Regions from separate parts of the Homo sapiens genome. Here region 2 is linked to region 1. The links come from fine-mapping of genetic effects on gene expression. A gene starts in region 1. The other region holds a variant in brackets. All regions are shown on one strand. Distances are between the middles of the regions. Region 1 holds the start of IMMT (inner membrane mitochondrial protein). Region 2 overlaps IMMT (inner membrane mitochondrial protein).

What was found. PIP is the estimated chance that this variant, and not a neighbour inherited with it, causes the effect. A credible set is the group of variants that fine-mapping cannot tell apart.
Region 2: its variant is the best candidate, but not a certain one, in a credible set for the expression of IMMT in monocytes (Quach 2016, PIP 0.87).

What each region holds. Positions count from the first base shown.
Region 1 is chr2:86,193,653-86,197,652 of GRCh38, reverse strand. It overlaps IMMT (inner membrane mitochondrial protein), which reads left to right and starts at 2,191. Exons shown (of 15, transcript NM_006839.3): 1 at 2,191-2,315. The coding sequence starts at 2,271. RefSeq lists enhancers at 2,201-2,320, 2,341-2,520, 2,641-2,690.
Region 2 is chr2:86,149,673-86,154,195 of GRCh38, reverse strand. It overlaps IMMT (inner membrane mitochondrial protein), which reads left to right. Exons shown (of 15, transcript NM_006839.3): 11 at 622-636; 12 at 2,676-2,899. Among named protein-coding and RNA genes, the nearest start is that of SNORD94, 16 kb to the right of the region's middle. The variant G/TTTTTTG (reference allele first, on the strand shown) is at 1,756.

The DNA of each region.
Region 1 (4,000 bases):
TTTTTGAGACGGAGTTTCGCTTTGTCCCCCAGGCTGGAGTGCAGTGGTGTGATCTTGGCTCACTGCAACCTCTGCTTCCCAGGTTCAAGTGATTCTCCTTCTTCAGCTTCCCACATAGCTGGGATTACAGGCGCGCACCACCAAGCCTAGCTAATTTTTGTATTTTTAGTAGAGACGGGGTTTCACCATGTTGGCCAGGCTGGTCTCGAATTCCTGACCTCAGGTGATCCGCCCGCGTCAGCCTCCCAAAGTGCTGGGATTACAGGTGTGAGCCACAGCGCCTGGCCTGCCTGATAACATTTTAAAGCAAAAATATTGACAACTTCCAAGTGGAGAGTGAGGACTCTCCACGTAGGTTATGAGGGGTTGGGAGGCTAATTTTGAGGTTTGAGATCTTGAAGCTAGAGAGGTTGCTAATGATGTTCAGGCGCAAGTTGTGGCTGTGACGTACATGACTGAAGCAGGATGAAAACATTCACTGGCATTGACAAATTCAAAGCCAAGGGTGTTAGAAAAGTCATCACACGGGCACCACATGACTGAAGCAGGATGAAAGCGTTCACTGGCATTAAGAAGTTCAAAGACAAGGGTGTTAGAAAAGTCATCACACCGGCACCACTGGGCATGACAGCAGTGGGCAGGGAGGCAGCAATTCAATTGCTAAAATTACTAAAGAAAACGGGAGACTGCTCTGGAAGCTAAGTGAAAGAGATATGAAACATATGTAATTACTGTAGTCCCCTAAAAACCATAGAACATAGAACATATACAAACATAACTATTGCTTTCAGATAATTTTCAAGTCCATCTCTCCATGCTACAAGTCATAGCGCAGTCTACCTCTAGAGAGAATACATATTGTAATAAATTACCCAGTTAAGACTTGGAATACTTTGCAAATCCAATAGAAGATAGAAAAGTTAGTTTCCACGATATTGCAATAAGATGCTAATAGTATTAATACGAACATATTAATTCTGGAGTATACATGGAGTATTAATACCATGCTTAATATTTAACGTGTTTTATTTTGATTACAGAATCAATGGAATACTTTTGTTTTTTGAGACAGAGTTTCGCTCTTGTTGCCCAGGCTGGAGTGCAATGGCGTGATCTCGGCTCACTGCAACCTCCGCCTCCCGGGCTCAAGCAATTCTCCTGCCTCAGCCTCCCGAGTAGCTGGGATTACAGGCACCCGCCACCATGCCCAGCTAATTTTTTGTATTTTTAGTAAAGACGGGGTTTCACTATTTTGGCCAGGCTGGTCTCGAATTCCTGACCTCAGGCGATCCACCCGCCTTGGCCTCCCAAAGTGCTGGGATTACAGGCGTGAGTCATAGCTCCTGGCCCTACTTTTCTTTTTAAATTTTTTGTTTGTTTATTTTTCTATATAGAGACGAGGTCTCACTGTGTTGCCCAGCCTGGTATCGAACCTCTGGGCTCAAGCGATCCTCCCGCTTCGGCCTCCCGAAGTACTGGGATTACAAGCGTGAGCCACCGCGCCCTGCCCAGTGGAATACTTTCAACGGTGCTTCTGCATTGACTTCCCATCTTCCAACCCATCCACAAACTGCAGCCAAAATGATGTTACTACAGTAACAACTTGGAGAAAGCAGTGTGGCTTAATCTGGAAGGAGCAGAAGCTGTGGAGTCCAAAGGACCCGTGTTCCTATCCTTGTTGTGCCACTTGACACGTTTAGCACAAGGGTCCCCACAGTGTTAGTTCACCGTCTCCAGCAATCACTATGACTCCCTGGAGGGCTGTCAAACGAAACAAAGGCGCAAACTGAGACAATTCCATTGTTTACGTAACTTTCGCCAAATCGGCTCCTTCCTACGAAATATCCAGCTCATAGAGCAGGCTGAGATGCTTTGTTGCTTTAATTCTCTTTAAGAGTCACAGCTGTCCATTTTCCACGTGCGGCTGAAGAATGGATTTCAGAGCGCTCTCCCTCCGGCAGTGTTCACCTAGTAACCCCTTCCGGATAAGGACCTGCAGCCCGGGCGCGACCCGGAAAGGGAATCCGCCCTTTTCGCCTCCTTCGCGCCAATCGCCTGGAGTTGGCGTTTCCGCAGCCGGGACACAGCCCACCCTCTAAGAGCCGCGGAGTCGGGGACGGTAGAAGGGGCCGCGCGTGCGCAGTGGCGTCCGCTGTGCTTCCGGTGCGCCGGGCGCGGACGCGGGCACGCACACACGCAAGCACGCCTCCACTTAACTCGCGCCGCCGCGGCAGCTCGAGTCCACCAGCAGCGCCGTCCGCTTGACCGAGATGCTGCGGGCCTGTCAGTTATCGGGTGTGACCGCCGCCGCCCAGGTGAGCACTGGGGCTCCCGGAGGCGCGTGAGGAGGCTGAACTAGAACCGTCAGCGAAAAACGGGGGAGCCTTGGTCGCTGCCTAGCCTCCAGGACAAAGGCGAGCCTCAGGGCCACCCTCGTCGGGAGAGGCCCGGGCGGGCAGCTAGGCAGCCACCAGGGAGTTCGCCGGACTGGGATGACTTGAGGTTATTGCAGCAGCGGGGTGGGGTGTGGAGAGTAGCGGGAGGCGCGGCTTCGTGGGCATGTAGTCCAATCAGGGCCGCGCTGCCCCCGTCCAGGACCAATCCTGGCTGCTGGCGTCTGGGTCGCCGGTTGGGCGCGCGATAGGTTTTCAGTGCTGAAGGTCGACGGGCGAGAACTACAGTTCCCGTCAGGACGAGCGGAGCGGCGGCTTGTTGCATCCTTAATAAGGAGGTGCCTGGACTTCTAGCGAGAGTCCACATTTTAGGGGTCAAGGTTGTAATTATCTGGGAGGGAGTGCCTTTCTTTTCGCAGCTGAGAACACTTCTGAGTTATTCTTAATCCAAACAAAAGCGAAAGATTTTCATTTGTGGAGCTGAAACTCCTGGTCTTCAAGGAAAGACAGGAGTCATGACCTTGTGGCTCATTTCTGAGATTAGGGCAGGGATCTGTGTCTCCAGGCGCTGGGACTACTTTGACATTCAAGGAGCCTAAATACCCAGTTACTTCTAGTTTTGCGTAATTGCCAAAGTTACTTTCTAAAATTGAAAATTAAAAAGCCTGTTTCCACTGCTCATGATTTTCAGGAAGTTGATATTTTGGCAAAATGTAGATAGCAAACCAAGTACTGTGACTCAAGCAGTAATTGAACAGAATCCCTAGGAATAGTGAGTTAGAGATCATAAAAGTCAAGCTTTGTTTTTTCAAGTTCGCTTCTCTTCCTATTTGCTGCTAGGTAACAGAAGCAGCCCCTTCCATAGGAAAGTGGAACGAACCTGTGTTAGTTTTCTATTGCTGCGTAACAAATACCACAAATTTAGCAGCTTAAAACAACACCCATGAATGACCTTACGGGTTCTGTAGGATAGAAGTCTGGGCACGGATGATCTGTGTTCTCCGCTCCAGGTCACATAAGGCTGCAAAGTATTAGCCATGCTGTGGTTCTCATTTGGAGATCAGGGTCCTCTTCCAGGCTCATGCAGTTTGTTGGCAGAATTCAGTCCCTTGCAGTTACAGGACTGAAGTACTTCTTTTCTTGCTGCCTCTTGCCAGCCACTGCTCCCAGCTTCTACAGCCTGCCTACAGTTCCTTGCCTCAAGGCCTCTAGAGGCCATTCATAACATTGATGTTTGCTTTCGTGCAGGCTACCAGGAGCTTGCCTCTCTGACTTCCAAATTTCTTTTACTTTGGTCTTTCCTCTCTAGACCCAGATTTAAAAGGCTTATGTGATTAGACCAGGCCCACCTGGATGACCTCCTTTTCAGTTAATTCAGAGTCAACTTTTTGGGATCCCATTTGGGAATTAAGAAAACTAATTAAAACTTGGTAATAAAAAATGAACCCTTTTATAGCTCTGAATCAAGATGTCTAAGCTTCTTGAAATTGCTGTCTTGTAAAATTCTTTGGTTTATTCTCACCATCTCCTTAATTCTGTAGCATTTGACATTGCTGCTTTATGAGGCTCTTTGTACTTTTGGCTTCTCTCAAGTAATATTTTGGGTC
Region 2 (4,523 bases), 44 kb after region 1:
GTCTCAAAAAAAAAAAAAAGAAATGTTTAGGTTGCTGGGTGCAGTGGCTCATGCCTGTAATCCCAGCACTTTGGGAGGCTGAGGAAGGCAGATCGCTTGAGCCCGGGAGTTTGAGACCAGCCTGGGCAACATGGCAAAACCCCTTCTCTACAAAAAAGTACAAAAATTAGCCGGGTATGGTGGCATACACCTCTAGTCCAAGTTACTTGGGAGGCTGAGGTGGGAGGATTGCTTGAGCCCAGCAGGTGGAGGTTGTGGTGACCTGAGATTGTACCACTGCACTCCAGGCTAGGCAACAGAGGAAGGCTCTGTCTCAAAACAAAAAAACAAAAAATTTAAGTTGATTACTGTGAAACAGAGATAAGTCCTTTGAAACCAAAACCACAATTAATATCAATGATTCTTTTATTTTCTAAAATGTTATTTACCTTGATTTGTCTTGTTTTACAGTTTAAATTTTAGAAAATAGCCGTATCATTTCATTTTCCAGTATTAAAATAGCTTTTCCTGGTACTAGTCTCCGATTCCTTCTTGTTTCCTTTTAGATATTTCTGTTTAATGATCAATAACTAAAGTATGTGCATTCTTTTTTTTCAAACTGTTCTATTTTTTCCTTTGTAGGTGTTTCAGACTTAGGTGAGTGTTATGTATATTTCATGTTTAAAGTCTTTTGTTTTGGGTATTAAGAGACTAAAGTCTTTTTGTTGTGCCTATGATTCTTACACAAAGCCATCTAAATAGATATAAAGTAGAATTATGTCACATGATAAATCTGAATTGGATATTTTTGGCATCCGAATGCTCTCAGGAATGAAAATGTTTCATCAAGTGATTGGAATCCTATAGATGTGAAGTGTGTGTGTGTGTGTGTGTGTGTGTGTGTGTGTGTGTAATATGGATTGTAACTGATTACTTTGGAGAATTTCAAACATTAAAAAGTAAGAAGAAAACTAAAGAACTTCCAGGACCCATCACTCAGTTTTGTAGCCATCAGCACATGACCAGTTTTGTCTCATCTATTCCCACTCCTCCTCAGCTTATATAGAAAGCAGACTCAAATATCACATTCTTTCACTTGTAAATACTTTCAGTATGTTTCAAAAACATCACCATACTATTATCACACCTAAAACTTAGTAACAATTCCCTAGTCACCAAATGTCCATTCAGTGTTAAAATATCCCCTATTATTTCATAGAATGAGTCTTTACAGTTTTTATTTGAATCGATAACCCATAGACGTTCCACATGTTGAGTTTAGTCAATAAATCTCTTGCCCCTTTTTGTTTTTTGCTTTTCAATGTATTTATTAAGAAATTGAGTCATTAGTCATATAGAATTTCCTACATTCCATATTTTGCTGTTGGAGCCATAATTCTTCACTTCATCTTAGCCAAAAGACTAAGAAGTGATGGAGTCATAATTCTTTTTTTTTTGAGACAAGGTCTTGCTCTGTCACCAGGCTGGAGTGCAGTGGCACAATTTCAGTTCACTGCAATCTTCGCCTCCTGGGTTCAGGCAATTCTCGTGCCTCAGCCTCCTGAGTAGCTGGGATTACAGGCATGTGCCCCCATGCCTGGCTAATTTTTGTATTTTTAGTAGAGTCAGGGTTTCACCATGATGGCCAAACTAGTCTCAAACTCCTGGCCTAAAGTGATCCACCCGTCTCGGCCTCTTAAAGTGCTGGGATTATTGGCATCAGCTACTGTGTCTGGCCGGTGGAGCCATAATTCTCTCTTTTTTTTTTTTTTTTTT[G/TTTTTTG]AGATGGAGTCTTGCTCTGTTGCCCAGGCTGGAATACAGTGGCGCAATTTCGGCTCACTGCAACCTCTGTCTCCTGGGTTCAAGTAATTCTCCTACCTCAGCCTCCCGAGTAGCTGGGATTACAGGTGTCCACCATCATGCCCAGCTAATTTTTGCATTTTTAGTAGAGACGGAGTTTCACCAGGTTGGCCAAGCTGGTCTCGAACTCCTGACCTCAGGTGATCTGCCTGCCTTGGCCTCCCAAAGTGCTGGGATTACAGGTGTGAGCCACTGTGCCTGGCTGGAGCCATAATTCTTAATCTGTGTATGTGTTGCTACATTTTTGGATTGAGATTTTAAAAAAAAACAAACATTGGTTTAAGCCTAGATGAGAATCTTTGGGTGTATTTTAAAAAGCTTTGCAGTGATTCTGATGGACAGCTCTGGTTGCTGTGTTGGGATTTAATCTAGATCATATGTGTTTAAGAAAAGTAAAAAAACTTATTAAGGAAAAGTCTGAGAGAATTTGAATTTGATTTTTAGTTTTAGCAGAAAAGAATCTTCAATTGGATGCCTGTTATAACTAATCAGAGTTATGCCTGAAAGAAAATATAGAAGTGATTGTATATATAAGTTTTGTCTTTAAAGGCAAAGTTACAGTAAATGAGAAAGTCCATTTATAATTAGTTCAGATTAAAAGAGGGTTCCTGGAAAACAACTGATTATCTGAAGGCCTACCTGAATTTTGCCAGGGGTTGAAAATACCTTATTGGACACTAGCCAATTTCTGATTGAACTGGGGAATCTAAATCTCTTTTCATGTTAGCTAAGTTTTACTTTCGTTTACTGCTCTTAAATTATAATCAGTTGATGCAGATTACCTTGTAATGAGGTATAATTTCAGTGACATCATTAATATTTTAACATGCTCTTTTGCTTAGCTGACAAGCTCTCTACTGATGATCTGAACTCCCTCATTGCTCATGCACATCGTCGTATTGATCAGCTGAACAGAGAGCTGGCAGAACAGAAGGCCACCGAAAAGCAGCACATCACGTTAGCCTTGGAGAAACAAAAGCTGGAAGAAAAGCGGGCATTTGACTCTGCAGTAGCAAAAGCATTAGAACATCACAGAAGTGAAATACAGGCTGAACAGGACAGAAAGGTAAGAGAAATGAGAATTGTTGCCTAACATTTAAAGTGACTCTAACTTGATTGTTTACTTGTAGAAATAATACTGGCTCAGCCGGGTGCAGTGGTTCATGCCTGTAATCGCGGCACTTTGGGAGGCCAAGGTGGGTGGATCCCTTGTGGTCAGGAGTTCGAGACCAGCCTGGCCAATATGGCGAAACCCCCGTCTCTTCTAAAAATACAAAAATTAGCTGGGTGTGGTGGCTCGCACCTGTAATCCCAGCTACTCGGAAGGCTGAGGCAGGAGAACCACTTGAACCAGGGAGGCAGAGGTTGCAGTGAGCTAAGATCGTGCCACTGCATTCCAGCTTGGGCGATGGAGCAAGACTGTCTCAAAAAAAAAAAAAAAATACTGACAGTCATTGGCTTTAGGATATTGAATATAAGTCATGCCAGCTGACCTTTAGAATGGAGCTTAGGTCCTCATTCCCCTCATCAGAACTTCTAGGAAAGGAGTGATCGAGCAGAGTTCCTTTATGTTGAGCAGATGCAGAAGTGTAAGAAAGGAATAAGCTACTGGTATCCAGGATTATCTAGCTCATCTTTCCAGTGGAGCTGAGCCTCTGTCCCTTAAAGCAGTGCTGAACGAATCTTTGTTGGAGTCTGAGTATATTTTTCTCTGCTATTGTTGTTAAGTGGTTGGTGGTTAAAAAACAGGTGAAATAGCTTCTTTAGCCCTCTGTCTGGGCACACCATTTATTAAATAGGTGTCCACAGGCTGATTTGGGAACCTAACTACTCATCCCACCTTTGTGTCTTCTTAGCAGTACTACTGGCCACTCCTTCCTTCTTGAAACTATTTCTTCCCTAGGCTCCCTGACACCATACTCTTCTGGCCTTTCTCTTACCTTGCTGGCCACTCCTTAACCTCCTTTTCTGCTCAGCCTCTCAAATGGTGGCATACCTGGCATTAGTTCTGAAACGTTTTCTCCATCTGAACTGTCTCTAAGTGTTCTTGTTGAGTCCCGTGACTTGGAAGTTTAAATACCATCTATACCTGATAAATGTCTATCTCCAGCTCTGACCTCTGCCTTGGCTTCAGGTTCCTATCCAGCAGCCTACCTGGTATCTCCAGCTTGATTTTCAGTAGTCATTTCATGCTTATCATGCTCCAAACAGATTTATTTATTCTCTCCAACCTGTCTTCCAGCCCCTCAACTTGTTTCTCTCTAAATAAACTGAGTTGAACAATCTGCTCAGCTATTCCAGCCCAAATCATGCTTTGTTGTTCCTCCATCAACTCATATTCAGTTGCCCCACAGATCCTACCAGTTTTGCATCCAACATAAATCCCAAATCTGTCCACTCCATTACTACCACCTTAGCCCAAGCTGTCATCTTAACAGCTTCCACTATTTTTTCTTTTTCTTTCTTTTTTTTTTTTTTTTTTTGAGACAGAGTCTGTCTTTGTGGCCCAGGGTAGAGTGCAGTAGTGCAATCTTGGCTCATTGCAACCTCTGCCTCCCAGGTTCAAGTGATTCTTGTGCCTCTCAGCCTCCTGAGTAGCTAGACTTACAGGTGCATGCCACCACATGTGGCTAATTTTTGTATTTTTAGTAGAGACGGGGTTTTGCCATGTTGGCCAGGCTGGTCTCGAA